Linked DNA regions of Homo sapiens: region 2 is linked to region 1. Evidence: fine-mapped expression QTL. Tissue or cell type: whole blood. Region 1 holds a variant in brackets; the other region holds the start of a gene. All regions are shown on one strand. Distances are from middle to middle.

Region 1 (8,000 bases):
TGAAGAGAATTGACTGTGTTGTAAGGTCTTTATTAGCGATCTAATCATTTGCACAGAGATAAATGTCTCTTATATAGCACCTATATTATTTGGGAGGCTCTTCTATGGAGAAGTATGTACTTTTCAGTTAACATAGGATAAGAAAAACCTTATAAAAGTCTTTTTCTTTTTTTAGGGAGATTAAGGATTTCAGTAATTTTTTTATGACATTTTCTCCACAGGATTATGTTCCTGATTATCTTTGCATTATTGTAAAATCCAATCTTTTAAAGCATTTCTTAAAATATTACATTCTAGGGATCATAAATCCCATCTATAAGAAGATGACTATTCATGAATATGACAGCCACTCAAATAAATGTGGCAAATGTGGTTTAATAGAAATAGCTCAAGAGCATAAATAATTATAGCCAATAAGATTATATTCTCCAGCAGAAAGTATGAACCAAGGAGAACATTGAAAAGTTCTCCCTTTTAAAATGAATTATGCAGTTTTTAAGTTATTTTCTTTGGCATGTTGGTATTCTATTTATACTTATTAAGTTAATCAAACAGTTCATATCAAAAAGTTAATGGGAAAACACTAATAGGACACTATTATTATACTATTTATTAGGAAAGTTCAGGAAGGTAGCATTAGCTATTTAATCACAGTAAAATTGATCTTTTAATAATTAAAATATAATAATATTTTTAAAAAGATGAAATTGTTTATAATCCAACCTATGATGACATATAAAATGTAATAGAGTTCAAAGTCCAGTGGGACAATCTGTTGAAATGAGATTTCGTTTAGTGAAAGCTTCTTATGAAAAAAGACTTTATAGTTTGACATTTGTTAAAATAATTTTCTTGTTGGCCATTGTAAATGTATCTAAGTGTGACTGTTTTGTGTTTCAGGCTTTGAGGCATTTGAAGGTCGTTTGTTTCAGATTGGCTGTAGGTCCATGCCTTATGGAGGCAAGTGCAGCTGCTGTTTTTTCACACTTCATTATGAAATTTCCCTGGCAATGGGCATTTCTATTAGGGTAATTTCTTTCTCATTTTTTCTTATGAAAATATTCAATTAAGGATGCTTCATTAAAACTGTTAAAATATTCAGAATGTTGTATAGAAAAGCTCTATTAAAATTCGTTTCAGTGTTAAAATCCTTGGAAAGCAGTTGATTAAAAGCAGAGCCATGTCCCAAATTGTACGAAATTTTTTTAACAAACATTCATAGCCCCTAAATGTTTATCATCAAGAAAATTCACATGATCAATTTATTCCTTTTCATCTGTATTATAACATATCTGTATGTTTTAATCTATCTAATGGCCTCTTCCTCATAGCTGTATGTAAGTACAGTTGCACATTTCATATATATGTATGTGTATATATATAAGTATATTTGAGAAACATTTTATATAGACATAGGTGTATAAATATAAACTCTCCCATTTTAAAGAAAGCAAGCAAACAAAAACTCTTGCCGTATATCCAATGCCCCATCCATCTTTATCTACCATCCATTTGTCTTATGTTTGAATTCCTCAAAATAAGTCTGTAACTACTGTCTCTAGATCCTAACTCCTTTTCATTTCTTAATTCATCAACTTTTGTCTCTGCTTATCCATTCCAATGACACTCATAGCAAAGTTCATCCATTACATAGTTACTACAAAATCCAGTGAATTCTTAAATTAATGTTTATGATAAAATACTCAAATGCACTTTTATTTTAAAAATTAGAACTTTATAAATAAAGGAGGAATGACCTTAGAATATGCCTTCAAATCATAATGCCCATAACTCTACCCAAAGTGACAACTCTTACGAGTTTTTTTCTTCTCCAATTTTTATTTCGGCTCAAGGGGTACATGAGCAGGCTTGTTATATGGATAAATTGCATGTCACAGGGGTTTGGTATGCAGATTATTTTGTCACCCAGGTAATAAGTATAATACCCAATAGGTAGTTTTTCTATTCTCCCCCTCCTTCCACCCTCCACCCTCAAATTCACCTAGTGACGATTGTTCCCTTCTTTCTGTCCATGTGTACTCAGTGTTTAGCTCCCACTTATAAGTAAGAATATGGGATATTTGGTTTCCTGTTCCTGTGTTAATTCACTTAGGATAATGGCCTCAACTCCATCCACGTTGCTCCAAAGGACATGATCTCGTTCTTTCTTGTGGCTGTGTATTATTCTATGGTGTATATGTGCCACATTTTCTTGGTCCGCAGTCTGATGCTCTAACCCTGAGATATACCCCCTCCTATGTGCCACATTTTCTTTATCCAGTTCACCATTGATGGGCATTTAGGTTGATCTCATGTCTTTTTTCTTTTTTCATTAGTTTTTAAGGAACAGGTGGTGTTTGTTTACATGGAAAATATTTTTAGTGGTAATTTCTGAGATTTTGGTGCACCCATCACCAGAGCAGTGTACACTGCACCCAAGGTGTAGTCTTTTATCGCTCACCCTCCTCCTACTCTTCCCCCTAAGTCCCCAAAGCCCATTGTATCATTCTTACGCTTTTGCATCCTCATAGCATAACTCCCACTTATAAGTCAGAACATACAATGTTTGGTTTTTTCATTCCTGAATTACTTCACTTAGAATAATGGTCTCCGACTCCTTCCAGGTTGCTGTGAATGCCATTATTTCATTCCTTTTTATGGCTGAGTAGTATTCTGTCGATGGTGTGTGTGTGTGTGTGTGTGTGTGTGTGTGTATACATACACATATATACACATAGATACGTATATATACACCACATTTTCTGTATGCATTCATTGATTGATGGGCATTTGAGCTAGTTCCGTATTTTTTGCAATTGCAAATTGTGCTGCAATAAACATGCGTGTGCAAGTGTTTTTTTCATATAATGACTTCTTTTCCTCTGGGTAGATACCCAGTATTGGGATTGCTAGATCAAATGGTAGATCTACTTTTAATTATTTAAGAAATCTTCATACTCTTTTCCATAGTGGTTGTACTAGTTTACATTCCCCCCAGCAGTGTGAAAGTGTTCCTTTTTACTACACCCATGGCAACATCTATTTTTTTTTTTTATTTTTTTGATTATGGCTATTCTTGGAGGAGTGAGATGGTATTGCATTGTGGTTTTGTTTGCATTTCCCTAATAATTAGTGATATTGAGGATTTTTTCATGTTTCTTGGCCATTTATATATCTTCTTTTGGGAAGTGTCTATTCATGTCCTTAGCACACTTTTTGATAGGATAATTTGGTTTTTTCTTGCTGATTTGTTAGAGTTCCTTATAGATTCTGGATATTAGTACTTTGTTGGATGCATAGTTTGTAAACATTTTCTCCCACTCTATAGGTTGTCTTTTTACTCTGCTGATTATTTCTTTTGCTGTGTAGAAGCTTCTTAGTTTAATTAAGTCCCATCTATTTATCTTTGTTTTTGTTGCCTTTGCTCTTGGGTTCTTGGTCATGAAGTCTTTGCCTAAGCAAATGTCTAGAAGGGTATTTCCAATGTTACCTTCTAGAATTTTTATAGTTTCAGGTGTTAGATTTAAGTCTTTGATCCATCTTGAGTTGATTTTTGTATAAGGTGAGAGATGAGGATCCAGTTTCATTCTTCTACATATGGCTTGCCAATTATCCCAGCACCATTTGTTGAATAGGGTGTCCTTTCCCAACTTTATGTTTTTGTTTCCTTTGTTAAAGATCAGTTGGCTTAAGTATTTGGCTTTATTTCTCAGTTCTCTATTCTGTTCCATTGGTCTATGTGCCTATTTTTATACCAGTGTTATGCTGCTTTGGTGACTATAGCCTTATAGTATAGTTTGAAGTCAAGTAATGTGATGCATCCACATTTGTTCTTTTTGCTTAGTCTTGCTTTGGTTATGCGGGCTATTTTTGGGCTCCACATTAATTTTAGGATTGCTTTTTCTAGTTCAGGGAAGAATGATGATGTAGATTGTTTTTGGCAGTATGGTCATTTTCACAATATTGATTCTACCTATCCATGAGCGTGTGATGTGTTTCTATTTGTTTGTGTCATCTATGATTTCTTTCTGCAGTGTTTTGTAGTTTTCACTGTAGAAGTCTTTCACCTCCTTGGTTAGGTATATTCCTAAGTTCGTTTGCTTGGGGTTTTTTCTTTGGTTTTGTTTGTTTGTTTGTTGTTTGTTTGTTTGTTTTTGCAGCTGTTGTAAAAGGGGTTGAGATCTTGACTTAATTCTCAGCTCAGTCACCATCGGTGTATACCAGTGCTACTGATTTGTGTACATTGATTTTGTATCCTGAAACGTTACTGAATTCATTTATCAGATCTAGGAGCTTTTTGGATGAGTCTTTAGGGTTTTCTCATT[A/G]TATGATCATATAATCATGAATAGCAACAGTTTGACTTCCTCTTTACTGATTTGGATGCCCTTTATTTCTTTCTCTTGTCTGATTGCTCTGGCTAGGACTTCCAGTACTATGTTGAATAGAAGTGGTGAAACTGGGCATCCTTGTCTTGTTCCAGTTCTCGGGGGAATGCTTTCAACTTTTCCCCATTCAGTATAATGCTGGCTGTGGGTTTTTCTTTCTCTCTCTCTCTCGGGTTTTTTTTTTTTTTTTTTTTTTGAGACGGAGTCTTGCTCTGTTGCCCAGGCTAGAGTACAATGGCCCAATCTCAGCTCACTGCAACCTCTGCCTCCCAGGTTCAAGCAATTCTCATGCCTCAGCCTTCCAAAGACCTGGGAGTAGCTCCCCAAGCTCGCCAGCATCTGTTACTTTTTGACTTTTTGATAATAGCCATTCTGCCTCCTGTGAGGTTGTATCTCACTGCAGTTTTGTTTTGCATTTCTCTAATGTTAGTGATGTTGAATATTTTTCCATATACTTGTTGACTACGTGTTTGTCTTCTTTTGAGAAGTGTCTGGTCCTCTCCTTTGCCCATTTAATGGGGTTGTTAGGTTTTTGCTTGTTGATTTTTCTAAGTTCTTTTTGGATTCTGGATATTAGACTTTTGTCGAATGCATGGTTTGCAAATATTTTCTCCCATTCCATAGGTGGTTTGTTGATGATTTCCTTTGCTGTGCAGAAGCCCTTTAGTTTAATTAGATCCCATTTGTCAATTTTTGTTTTTGTTGCAATTGTTTTTGGCGTCTTCATCATAAAGTGTTTTCCAGAATTGAAATTTCCTAGGATATGTCCAGAATGGCCTGTGTCCAGAATGGTATTTCTTAGGATATCTTCCAGGGTTTTTATAGTTTTGGGTTTTACATTTAAGTCTTTAATCTATCTTGAGGTGATTTTTGTAAACGGTGAAACGTATGGAGTCCAGTTTCAGTTTTCTGCATATGGCTAGCCAGTTATCCCAGCACAATTTCCGAGTAGGGATTCCTTTCCCCATTGCTTGTTTTTGTCAAGTTTGTTGAAGAGTAGATGGCTATAGGTGTGCGGCTTTATTTCTGCGTTCTGTAACCTGTTCCACTGGTCTATGTCTGTTTTTGAGTTCCTTATAGATTCTGGATATTAGTACTTTGTTGGATGCATAGTTTGTAAAGATTTTCTCCCACTCTATAGGTTGTCTTTTTACTCTGCTGATTATTTCTTTTGCTGAGCATAACCATGCTGTTTTGCTTACTGTAGCATTGTACTACCGTTCGAAGTCAGGTAGTGTGATGCTTTTGGCTTTGTTCTTTTTGCTTAGGATTGCTTTGGCTATTTGGGCTTTTTTTGTTTGTTTGTTTTTTTGGCTCCAAATGAATTTTAGGATGCTTTTTTTAATCCTGTGAAAAATGTCATTGATAGTATGATAGGAATAGCATTGACTCTGTAAATAGCCTTAGGCAGTATGGCCATTTTAACAATATTGCTTCTTCCTATCTGTGATCATGGAATGTTTTCCTTTTGTTTCTGTTGTCTCTGATTCTTTGAGCACTCGTTTGTAATTTTCATTGTAGAGATATTTCACCTCCCTGCTTAGCTGTATTCCAAGGTATTTTATAGTTTTTTTGTGGCTATTGTGAATGGGATTGCATTCTTGATTTGGCTTTCAGCTTGGATGTTGTTGGTGTATAGAAATGCTACAGATTTTTGTACATTGAGTTTTGTAACCTGAAACTTTGCTGAAGTCATTTGTCAGATCTGGGAGCTCTTGAGAGGCTACTATGGGGTTTTCTTGGTATAAAAGTGTTTCACCTATGAAGAGGCATAGTTTGGCTTCCATTCTTCCTATTTAGATGTCTGTGTTTCTTTCTCTTGCCTAATTGCACTGGCTAGGACATCCATTACTATGTTGAATAGGAGTAGTGAGAGTGGGCATCCTTGTCTTGTTCCAGTTCTCAAAGGGAGTATTCCAGCTTTTTCCCATTCAGTATGAAGTTGGCTGTGGTTTTGTCATAAATGGCTCCAATTATTTTGAGGTATGCTCCTTCAGTAACTCATTTGTTGAGGGTCTATATCATGAAGGGATGTTTTTATTTTTAGTTCTATTATATGATGAATCACATTTATTGGTTTGTATATCTTGAACCAAACTTGCATCCCAGGGATAAAGCTTACTTAATCATAGTGGACTAGCTTTTTGATATGCTGCTGGATTCAGTTGGCTTGTATTTTGTTGAGGATTTTTGCATCTATGATCATCAGTGATAACTGTCCTGAAGTTTTCTTTTTTGTTGTGTCTCTGCCAGGTTTTCATATCTGAATGATGCTGGCCTCATAAAATGAGTTAGGGAGGGATCCTTCCTCCTCATTTTTTTGGAATAATTTCAGTAGCATTGGTACCAGCTCTTCTTTACACTTCTGGTAGAATTTGTCTGTGAATCTGTTGGGTCCTGGGCTTGCTTTTTTTTTTTTTTTTTTTTTTGGCTCAGAGACTTTTTATTACTCATTCAGTTTCAGAACTCATTTTTGATTTGTTCAGGATTTCAGTTTCTTCCTAGTTCAATCTTGGGAAGTTGTATGTTTCCAGAAATTTACCAATTTCTCATAGGTGTTCTACTTTGTTTGCATGAAGATGTTCATCGTAGTCTCTGAGAGTTTTTTGTATTTCTGTGTGGTTGGCGGTAACGTCCACTTTGCCATTTCTGATTGTGTTTTTTGGATCTTCTCTCTCTCTTTTTTTTTTTTCCTTATTGGTCTAGCTAGTGACCTATCCAATTTATTTATTCTCTCGAAGAACCAGCTTTTAGTTTCATTTATCTTTTGTATGGCTTTTCATGACTCAATTTCATTCCATTCTGCTCTGATTTTGGTTATTTCTTTTCTTCTGCTAGCTTTGGGATGGTTTCCTCTCGTTTTTCTGTTTCCTTTAGGTATGATATTAGGTTGTTAATTTAAGATCCTTCTAACTTTTCAATATGGGCATTTAGCACTATAAACTTTTCCCTTAACACTGCTTTGCCTGTGTCTTAGAGAGCCGAGAATGTTGTATCTTTGTTTTAATTAGTTATAAAGAATTTATTGGTTTCTGCCTTAATTTCATTGTTTACCCAAAAGTCATTCAGGCACAGGTTGTTTAATTTCCATGTAATTGTATGGTTTTGAGAGTTCGTCTTAGTGTTGACTTCTATTTTTATTACACTGCGGGTCCAAGAGTGTGGTTGGCCTGATTTCAGGGGTTTTCTTAAATTTATTGAAAATAATTTTAGACTGATAGTGTGATCAATTTTACAATATATGCCATGTACAGATGAGAGGAACATATATTCTGTTGTTGTTGGGTGGAGTGTTCTGTAGATGGCTGTTAGGTCCATTTAGCCAAGTGTTGACTTCAAGTCCTGAATATCTTTGTTCATTTTCTGTCTCTTTGATCTGTCTAGTACTGTCAGTGAGATGTTGAAGTCTCCCACTATTATTCTGTGGTTATCTAAGTTTCTCTATAGGTCTCTATGAACTTGTTTTATGAATCTGAATGCTCCAGTTTTGAGCACATTTATCTTTTAGACAGTTAAGTCTTCTTGTTGAATTGAACCCTTTATCATTACGTAGTGCCCTTCTTTGTCTTTTTGATTGTTGTTGGTTTAAAGTCTATTTTGTCTGAATTAGGATAA
Region 2 (8,000 bases), 180 kb after region 1:
ATGGTGCTTTTCATCTCTAGCATTTTTTATTATTTTTTAGAATTTCCATGTCTCTGCTTACGTTACCCATCTGTTTTTGTATGTTGTGTAAATTTTCCATTAGAGCTCTCAGCATATTAATCATAGTTATTTTAAATTCCTGGACTGATAATTCTGACATTCCTCCCATATGTGAGTTTGGTTTTGGCATTTGCTTTGTCTTTCCAAGTTGTATCTTTGGCTTTGTAAATTTTTGTTGAAAGCCATACATGACATCCTGGGTGAAAGGAATTGCCATAAATAGGCCTTCAGTGATGTGTTGGGAAGGTGTTGGGAGAGGGAAAATGGTCTATTTTCCTCTGATTAGGTCTCAGTCATCTAGTGAGCCCAGTCCCCTGGACTGTGAACTTCACAGTGCTTCTCAGCTATGTTTCACCCCCTTAGATGGGGCAGAATGTCTATGGGGGGCTGGAGTTGGGTATTTTCCTTCTCCCAGGCTGGCGAGACTCTGATAAAACCCCAGTTGGTTCAGCTCTGGTAAAATTGTTTCTTTTGAGAGTGGGTCTTGTTAAGAAGCACAGAATCTCTGGCACATTCAGAATAGTTACTTTCCTCCTCCCTTGCAGGAAACACGAGAGGATTTTTCTTCAATCTTCACTATGAGAGCTTTGTGGAGCTCCTGGAGGCAAACTTACAAAAGCACAGCTGCTCCCCTAAGACTGGGCCCCCTTGGAGTTTTTAACTCTCAAATTTGTGCATATTGGTCCTCCAGTAATTTGTCAATTATAGTCCAGGTCTTCCTACTCTGTACTGGTTCCCACTGAGATTTCAGCTATGGGACAACGGTTGTGGGGTAGTGTGTGTGGTCTACTCAGTTAAGTTGTAATTGCCTGTATCTACCTGTCTACATCTCTAATTTTGGGGCAGCAGTCTGCCCTGTGACCTCACTTCTTTGACTCATCTAAGAAGAGTTGTCTATTTTCAATTTGTGCAGCTTTTTACTTGCTTTTTAGGATAGAGTGATGACTTCCAAGGTCCTTACATGCCAGGCCAGAAATTGGAAATCTATTATTGTTTTGACCCATGCATTATTTAGGAATATAATATATTATATTCCTAATTATATAATTATATTATATAATATAATTATATTATATATTTTTATATATTTATATTATTATATAAATTATATATATTTAAAATATATATTTGTATATGTATGTATATATGTATATATACAGTATATGTATGTATGTATATATACAGTATATGTATATATATACGTATATGTATATATGTATATATACAGTATATGTATATATATACACAGTTTGCTGACATAGGCCATGTGTCCTCTAGTTGACTTCTTGGACTCTCTTGGGTAGAATCCCATTATACTGGCTCAAGCCTGGTTACTTCCTACGGTGTCCTCTTGGTTTATAGGAAACTCATGCATATGCATCCTTGACACACCAAATTCTAGTGGTGTACATAGTTTCCACTACCTTCTCTCTTTGTTCTAACATTTGGGGCTTCAAACTCTGGGGAAGTATGTCAAACCTTTGGGCAGGATACTTATGGGCTATTATCCCCAGTCCTGGGGTTTAATCAGACACTATGAGTCTAAAGGCAAATGTCCACTCCACATCTGATTACTCTTTCATTTTCTTTCCCTTATTATAACTTCTGTAATATATCATGGGATTGGAATATCATTGGCCTTGGTATATACCATGGTGTTCTAATGAGTTTACCAATTTTATATATTTAGATATGAAGGAAATGTTGTCATATAGCAAAGGGCCTAACTACTTCCATTGGTCTGTTGTGACAGGATACTGACCCTACACATCATTTAATCACCGTGGGCATTATTTATCTTTTTAAACCAGGGAACGATCACTTGTTCTAAATAATTCAAGTTTTGGGAAGCATCAAATGAAATGATCAAAATGAAATCTGTTTATACAGTGTAAGTTAAAGATACCCATAACTATTTTAAACATTGCATTTGGTATCATGACTTTAAATTACATAAGTTGAGAAGTTTTATGTTATCTCTAAATAAGGTTTATTTACCAGAAAATCATGGACAAAAATTATCCTATAACAAAATGAAAACATCATGTCATCTGTGCCAATTGCAATTTTAGGAAGAGTACTTATTAGGGCTTTGATTATTCTTTGATGTTCTCTGTTGTCAAAGTGAAGTAACCTAAATGATGTTATGCTTGCATCCTGGAATGAAAGGAGGAATGAGAATCTTCTATTATTGTTTTTCTAAAAATTATATTTCTTAATAAACAGAATATATCCATATGTATCATCAAGGATGAATTTTCCTCTGATTTGGCTTAATGAAATCTCTGGGAATTATGAAAAAATTCCTTTGCCGCTCTTGTTGCCATAAACCTTGTGTTATCAGTGTTGCACAGACCATGGCTAGCCATTTAATGCCGTGAATTATGGCATATAATTTGAATTGAGAGCTTTGTTTCTATCAAAGGTAAAAATGCTTCTGGAGTGAGTGAGGAAGGCTTTGAAGCAGTGAGAGCGTTTCCCCTATAGCATCATTGGGCTCTGACAGTAGGACCTTGAAGAGGAGGGTTCTAATCCTGTCTGCCACTATGTGACAGGCAAGTCACCTGATCTTTTTTTTTTTTTTTTTTTTAGAGTCTTTCTCTATAGCCCAGGCTGGAGTGCAGTAGTGCCATCTCGGCTTACTGCAACCTCTGCTTCCTGGGTTCAAGCGGTTCTCCTGCCTCAGTTTCCCGAGCACCTGCGACTACAGGCACGTGCCACCACGCGCCCAGCTAATTTTTGTATTTTTAATAGAGACAGGGTTTCACCATGTTGGCCAGGCTGGCCTCGAACTCCTGACCTCAAGTGATCCACCCGCCTCGGCCTCCCAGAAGTGCTGGGATTACAGACGTGAGCCACCGCGCCTGGCCCCGATCTCTTTGAACTCAGTTCCCTCATCTGTAAAGCCAGCGGCTTGGGTTGGATAATCCATACTGTCCTTTAAGCCAAGATATTCAGGGCTTGTAAATAATGCTGACTTTGCAAAGTAAGATATTGCCCGGTGTCTGCAGAATCAGGCAATTCCAAGGCCATTGTAAGGCGAAACAAAGCTCAGATTTGATGAGAGAAAATTTCTTTTCAAGGACTTCTTCCGAAGCATAAATATACGGCAGATAGCGTCAACACAGGAGAAAGGCAGTCTATTTTATGCAATGTAAAATTCCGTCTTAACTTCTAGGATTACTGTTACATCCTATTGCAAAAATGGGACTCAGGTAGACCATTTGACTACAAGACCCGAAATAAGTCAGTGGTATTTCTTGGGTACTCTGGCATTGTTAGGGACGATCACATATGTTTACTCATTTTATACTTATAACACCTTGAAAACTTCAAGAAACGGAGATGGAGATTTTGCGGCTTGCCCAGGTCCCACAGCTAGTGAGTGCAGAGGATTTTAAACTCAGCTGCGCGCCTAGTGCAGGTTCCAGAACCTCAGAAACCTCCGTGGGGCTTTATGAAACATAAGGACGCAGGCCGCTAGTAACAATAGCTAACGTGAATGCCTTCTCTGGGCCAGGCTCCATGCTGCATGCTATAGTCGCATTTTCTTGGTTAGCCCTCAGAACAACCTTCTGATGGAGATACTGCTAGTACTTGTTTACTCTTTGAAGGGCGGGGTAGGCTCTGAGACCCGCGAGTTGAGCTGCAGCGGGGTGAGTGTTACGCTACCAGGTAGACGAGGGTCTGTGTAAATTTGGCGGAAGGGAAGTGGTGGGTTGTCTCCCAGTTTGGGTTCTCTGAAGGAGTGAGGGGACTCTCCAGCTATGGTCTCCACGTACAGTCGGTCTCTGATCTCCCGAGGCTTTGTGCCACTGCGCGCCCAGGGATCTTTCTGTCCCAATTACCGTGCAAGATTCTTGCCTCCAGTTGTATGTACTGAGGCGGCGGGAAGAAGCGCCGAGGGAAGGCTCAGACCGCAATGCCCCCCAGCCTGTAGCTATTCTCGGGGGCTGCAGCTCCCGCACCCGCGACGCCCGGCTTTCAGCGGGTGCAGGCGCAGCCTCCTCGTTCCCCTCCCGCCCGCGGCTGCGCCCGGAGAGCGCTCAGCTGACCTAGGGGCGGGGCCGGGGCGGGGACCTAAAGCCTCGGCTACTTCCGAGGGGGTGAGTGGCTTCACCGCCGGTCCCTTGCAGCGCTGCCTTTCGATCTCTCCACATCTCGGTGGCGCGGGATCTCAAGATGCGCCTCCACCTGCTCCTGCTGCTCGCGCTGTGCGGTGCAGGCACCACCGCCGCGGAGCTCAGTTACAGCTTGCGTGGCAACTGGAGCATCTGCAATGGGAACGGCTCGCTGGAGCTGCCCGGGGCGGTCCCTGGCTGCGTGCACAGCGCCTTGTTCCAGCAGGGCCTGATCCAGGTATGGCGTGCGGCCGACCCGCGGCGAGCCTGCGCCCGCCTTCTTCTGGTGCTGAGAGGGGCCCAGGAACCGCCTGGCAGCCCCCAGCTCTGGGCCATTCTCGTCGGTTTGGTAGTAACTTCCCCTTTGCATCTTGTGATCTGCGGGGGGAAATGCCCAAGCTATGGGGTACGGGCTTGACGGAGACTGAGCGACCGACCCATGTTGGGACATCAGTAACTCTGGAAAGGGGAAGTTTAGATAGGGGAACAGTGTTGCTACTAGCAGTTTACTTACTGCAGTCGTTCTCTACTGAAGCGTGTATACAAAGGGCATGCCGTCACTGACAAGCATAAGGTCGGGAATTACTGTCTCTACTGTCTGCACGCCACAGGGGACAACAGCGTTTTGTTAAGTAAGGGTTAACTCTATTGAGTAATGTCTCGGTTTTTTATTTTCGCTGTTAAGCGTCAGGGAGTCAGATTTGGGATTGACGCAGCACAGACGTTGTGGAGAATGACCTACAAGAGTAAAGTTGGGTTTGTCAGTGCTAGTGTGGCTAACAACGGGTAAATAATTTTTAAGGCTAACTTGGTGATGAAGAAAGGTGCTATTTCCTCTCAGGGCGTGTGTGTGTGTGTGTGTGTGTATCCCAATGGAGTCTCCAATTTACAGACTACTTGTGGGGAACGTTTTCGTGTTTGGCTGCCTGTGCGCATAGGTTTGCAAACTGACTTCCATCCTCCAACTGCTTTTGCTGTTCCCTCTTGCACAGCGTTCCCACGTGTTGTCTTTACTTGGGGCAAAATGTACTTGTAATTGATCTACTTGTGGGATGCATACATTGTCCAATCCTCATAACAACTCTGTATAGTAAGTGTTCATATCTGAATTTTATGGATAATATGGAATTATGGAACACAGAGAAATTAGGAAGGTGACAGCAACTAAATGGAAAGAAATGGAATTCTAACCCAGGTGGTCTCAACTCCATAGCCTGGTCTCTATACTATGTGGTATGCTTAGTTTGGTGTTTTAAAAAATCATGTGTTTTTGAAGCACTGTGGCTGACTTTCAGGAGCACCATTCTAAGTTTATTTGCATGACAAGGTGGTCATCTAGGGTTGTGCCAAATTTCTGACCTGGTACTTAGTAGTTTTTTTTTTTTTTTTCCTGAGATGTGTATCAGAAAGGAGGTGAATGTTGTAAATGACATTGACCATTGTCCGATGTATTTTTAGAGTAGATCATTCCCAAACTTTAGTACTTTATTTTAAGTTGACAAACTACTTGTGATAGAGAACACAGCTGACCACAGTATACTCTGAGTTTTCACTTATATCTGCTTTGAGAATGCCTGTGTTTATTTTGTAGGGTTCCTCCTTGCCTGATTTTACTGAAATAATTAAGCCAATGGGTGCTGGTACGTGAGAGCTTTGGGAGGCCAAGGTAGGAGGATCCCTTGAGTCCAGGAGTTCAAGACCAGCATGGCCAACATAGAAAGAGTCTATGAGGCCGAGGTGGGAAAATTTCTTGAGGCCAAGAGTTCAAGACCAGCATGGCCAACATAGAGAGATTCTATCTCTAAAAAAAAAAAAAAAGAAAGAAAGAATTAAGCCAATGGGAAATAATGAGTGGCTTCAGTAAGTCAGATTATTGTGCCATATTACAGAGCTAAGAAGCTAAGAAACAACGTTTGGTTACAACAGATACTTAATGAAAATGAATTTGCTCATAGTATGAAATAACTTCCTCATAGGAACAATTTGAAGAGATTTCTTAACTCTCTTCATAAATTCTTAGCAAAACCTTGAGGTTTCAATCAGGTGGCCATGGGTCTCAAATGGCAGTGGAATGAGAAATGGGAAGGCTTTTGGGGCTTAGGAAACACAAGGCCTGTTGAAAATAATCATCAGGCTGGGCACAGTGGCTCATGCCTATAATCCCAGCACTTGGGAGGCAGAGGTAGGTGGAGTTTAGACCAGTCTGGGCAACTGGCGAGACCCTGTCTCTACAAAAAATTAAAAAATTAACTGGGCGTGGTGGCGTACACCTGTGGTCCTAGCTACGAGGGAGGCTGAGGTGGGAGGATCGTTTGAGCCCAGGAGGTTGAGGCTGCAGTGAGCCGTGATCTGTACTCCAACCTGGGCAACAGAGTGACACCCTCTCTCAAAAAAAAAAAAAAAAGAAAAAAAGTAAAGAAGCAATCATCAACATCAGATCAGTATCGTTATTCAGTAATGTGAGACTGTTGTCCGACCTGCTTTATTATAACATCCCTTTTTGGTGTTGACTTGAGGAAATATTCTACCGTTTATAGTAGACACTGGGCCAAATATTGTGTTTGTGTAAGAACTTGAAACATATCTTGGTGATATCATTCATTTATTTATCTATTCACCTAGTTAATTATCTCATATTTATTTTGTACCTCTAATGTGGCAGGCACTATTCTAAGTACTTGAAATCGAGTGGTAAAGAAAACAAAGTCCTTTCCCTAATGGACATTCTAATGGAGGAGATAGACATATATACCAAATTAATAAATAATGTAAGGCAGGTGGCACACTGAAGAAAAATTGAGCAGGTTAAAGGAAGAGACAGTGAAGGCTGGTTGGAAAGCATTGCTATTTTTTAAAAAGTGGTTCAAGATAGGTATTTTGATAAGGTGACTTCTAAACAAAAAGACCTGTTTGAAAAGGTCACTTTTAAGGAGAAGTGCATTTCCAGCAAAGAGGAAAAACACAGGAGTGGGGAGGATAGAGGCCCTGAGGCAGGCACGAGCTTGACAAGTTTCAGGAATAGTCAGCAGGCCAGTGTGGCTGGAGACCTGGGAACCAGAGGGTAGGAGAGGAGTTCAAAGTCTAGGGCACATCATGAAAGGCTGTGAGCCATAGGAAACACTTTGGCTTTTATTCTACATGTGATGGGAAGTTATTGGAGGCTTTGAGCTTAGAGTAGCATGATTAGATTTGCCTTTTTAAAGGTCACTCTGTTGTGTGAAGGCTACAGTGCAGGAGAGTGGAAGCCTGGAGACCAACCAGGGGACTATTGCTGGTCTATGTATGGGCAAGAGATGACTTCTGGCTTGGACAAGCATGGTGGCAGTGAAATGGTGAGAATGGTTGTGAGAACACGTTTTACATGTAGAAACAAGAGGATTTCTTCAGTTGGATTTGTTAATGGATTGGGAGACAGAAGGGGGAGGTGCAGGAAAATACCAGGATTTTTTTTATCTGAGCTGGTTAAATGAAATTTGTATTTAGTGAGAGATTCTGTGGCTAGTCTTGGCTATTTCCTAGGTGATTCTCTGGGTTTTCTGTACAGAATCTAAACCTTTGGTTTCTTAGAGAGTCTTTTGGGTTCTCTGTGAAAAGTTATTCCTTCAGCCTGCTATTTTTTTTTTTTTGAGACGGAGTTTCGCTCTTGTTGCCCAGGCTGGAATGCAATGGTACTATCTCGGCTCACCGCAACCTCTGCCTCCTGGGTTCAAGAGATTCTCCTGCCTCAGTCTCCCAGGTAGCTGGGATTACAGGCATGTGCCACCATGCCTGGCTAATTTTGTACTTTTAGTAGAGACAAGCTTTCTCCATGTTGGTCAG

The links. PIP is the estimated chance that this variant, and not a neighbour inherited with it, causes the effect.
Region 2: it holds the start of MANBA, and the variant in region 1 is fine-mapped to the expression of MANBA in whole blood (INTERVAL, PIP 0.97).

Annotation. Positions count from the first base shown.
Region 1 is chr4:102,938,221-102,946,220 of GRCh38, reverse strand. SLC9B1 (solute carrier family 9 member B1) reads left to right here. Exons shown (of 12, transcript NM_139173.4): 6 at 901-1,028. Among named protein-coding and RNA genes, the nearest start is that of CISD2, 73 kb to the right of the region's middle. RefSeq lists an enhancer at 7,629-8,000. The variant A/G (reference allele first, on the strand shown) is at 4,326.
Region 2 is chr4:102,757,137-102,765,136 of GRCh38, reverse strand. It overlaps MANBA (mannosidase beta), which reads left to right and starts at 4,169. Exons shown (of 17, transcript NM_005908.4): 1 at 4,169-4,419. The coding sequence starts at 4,243. RefSeq lists a silencer at 4,005-4,134 and an enhancer at 4,225-4,574.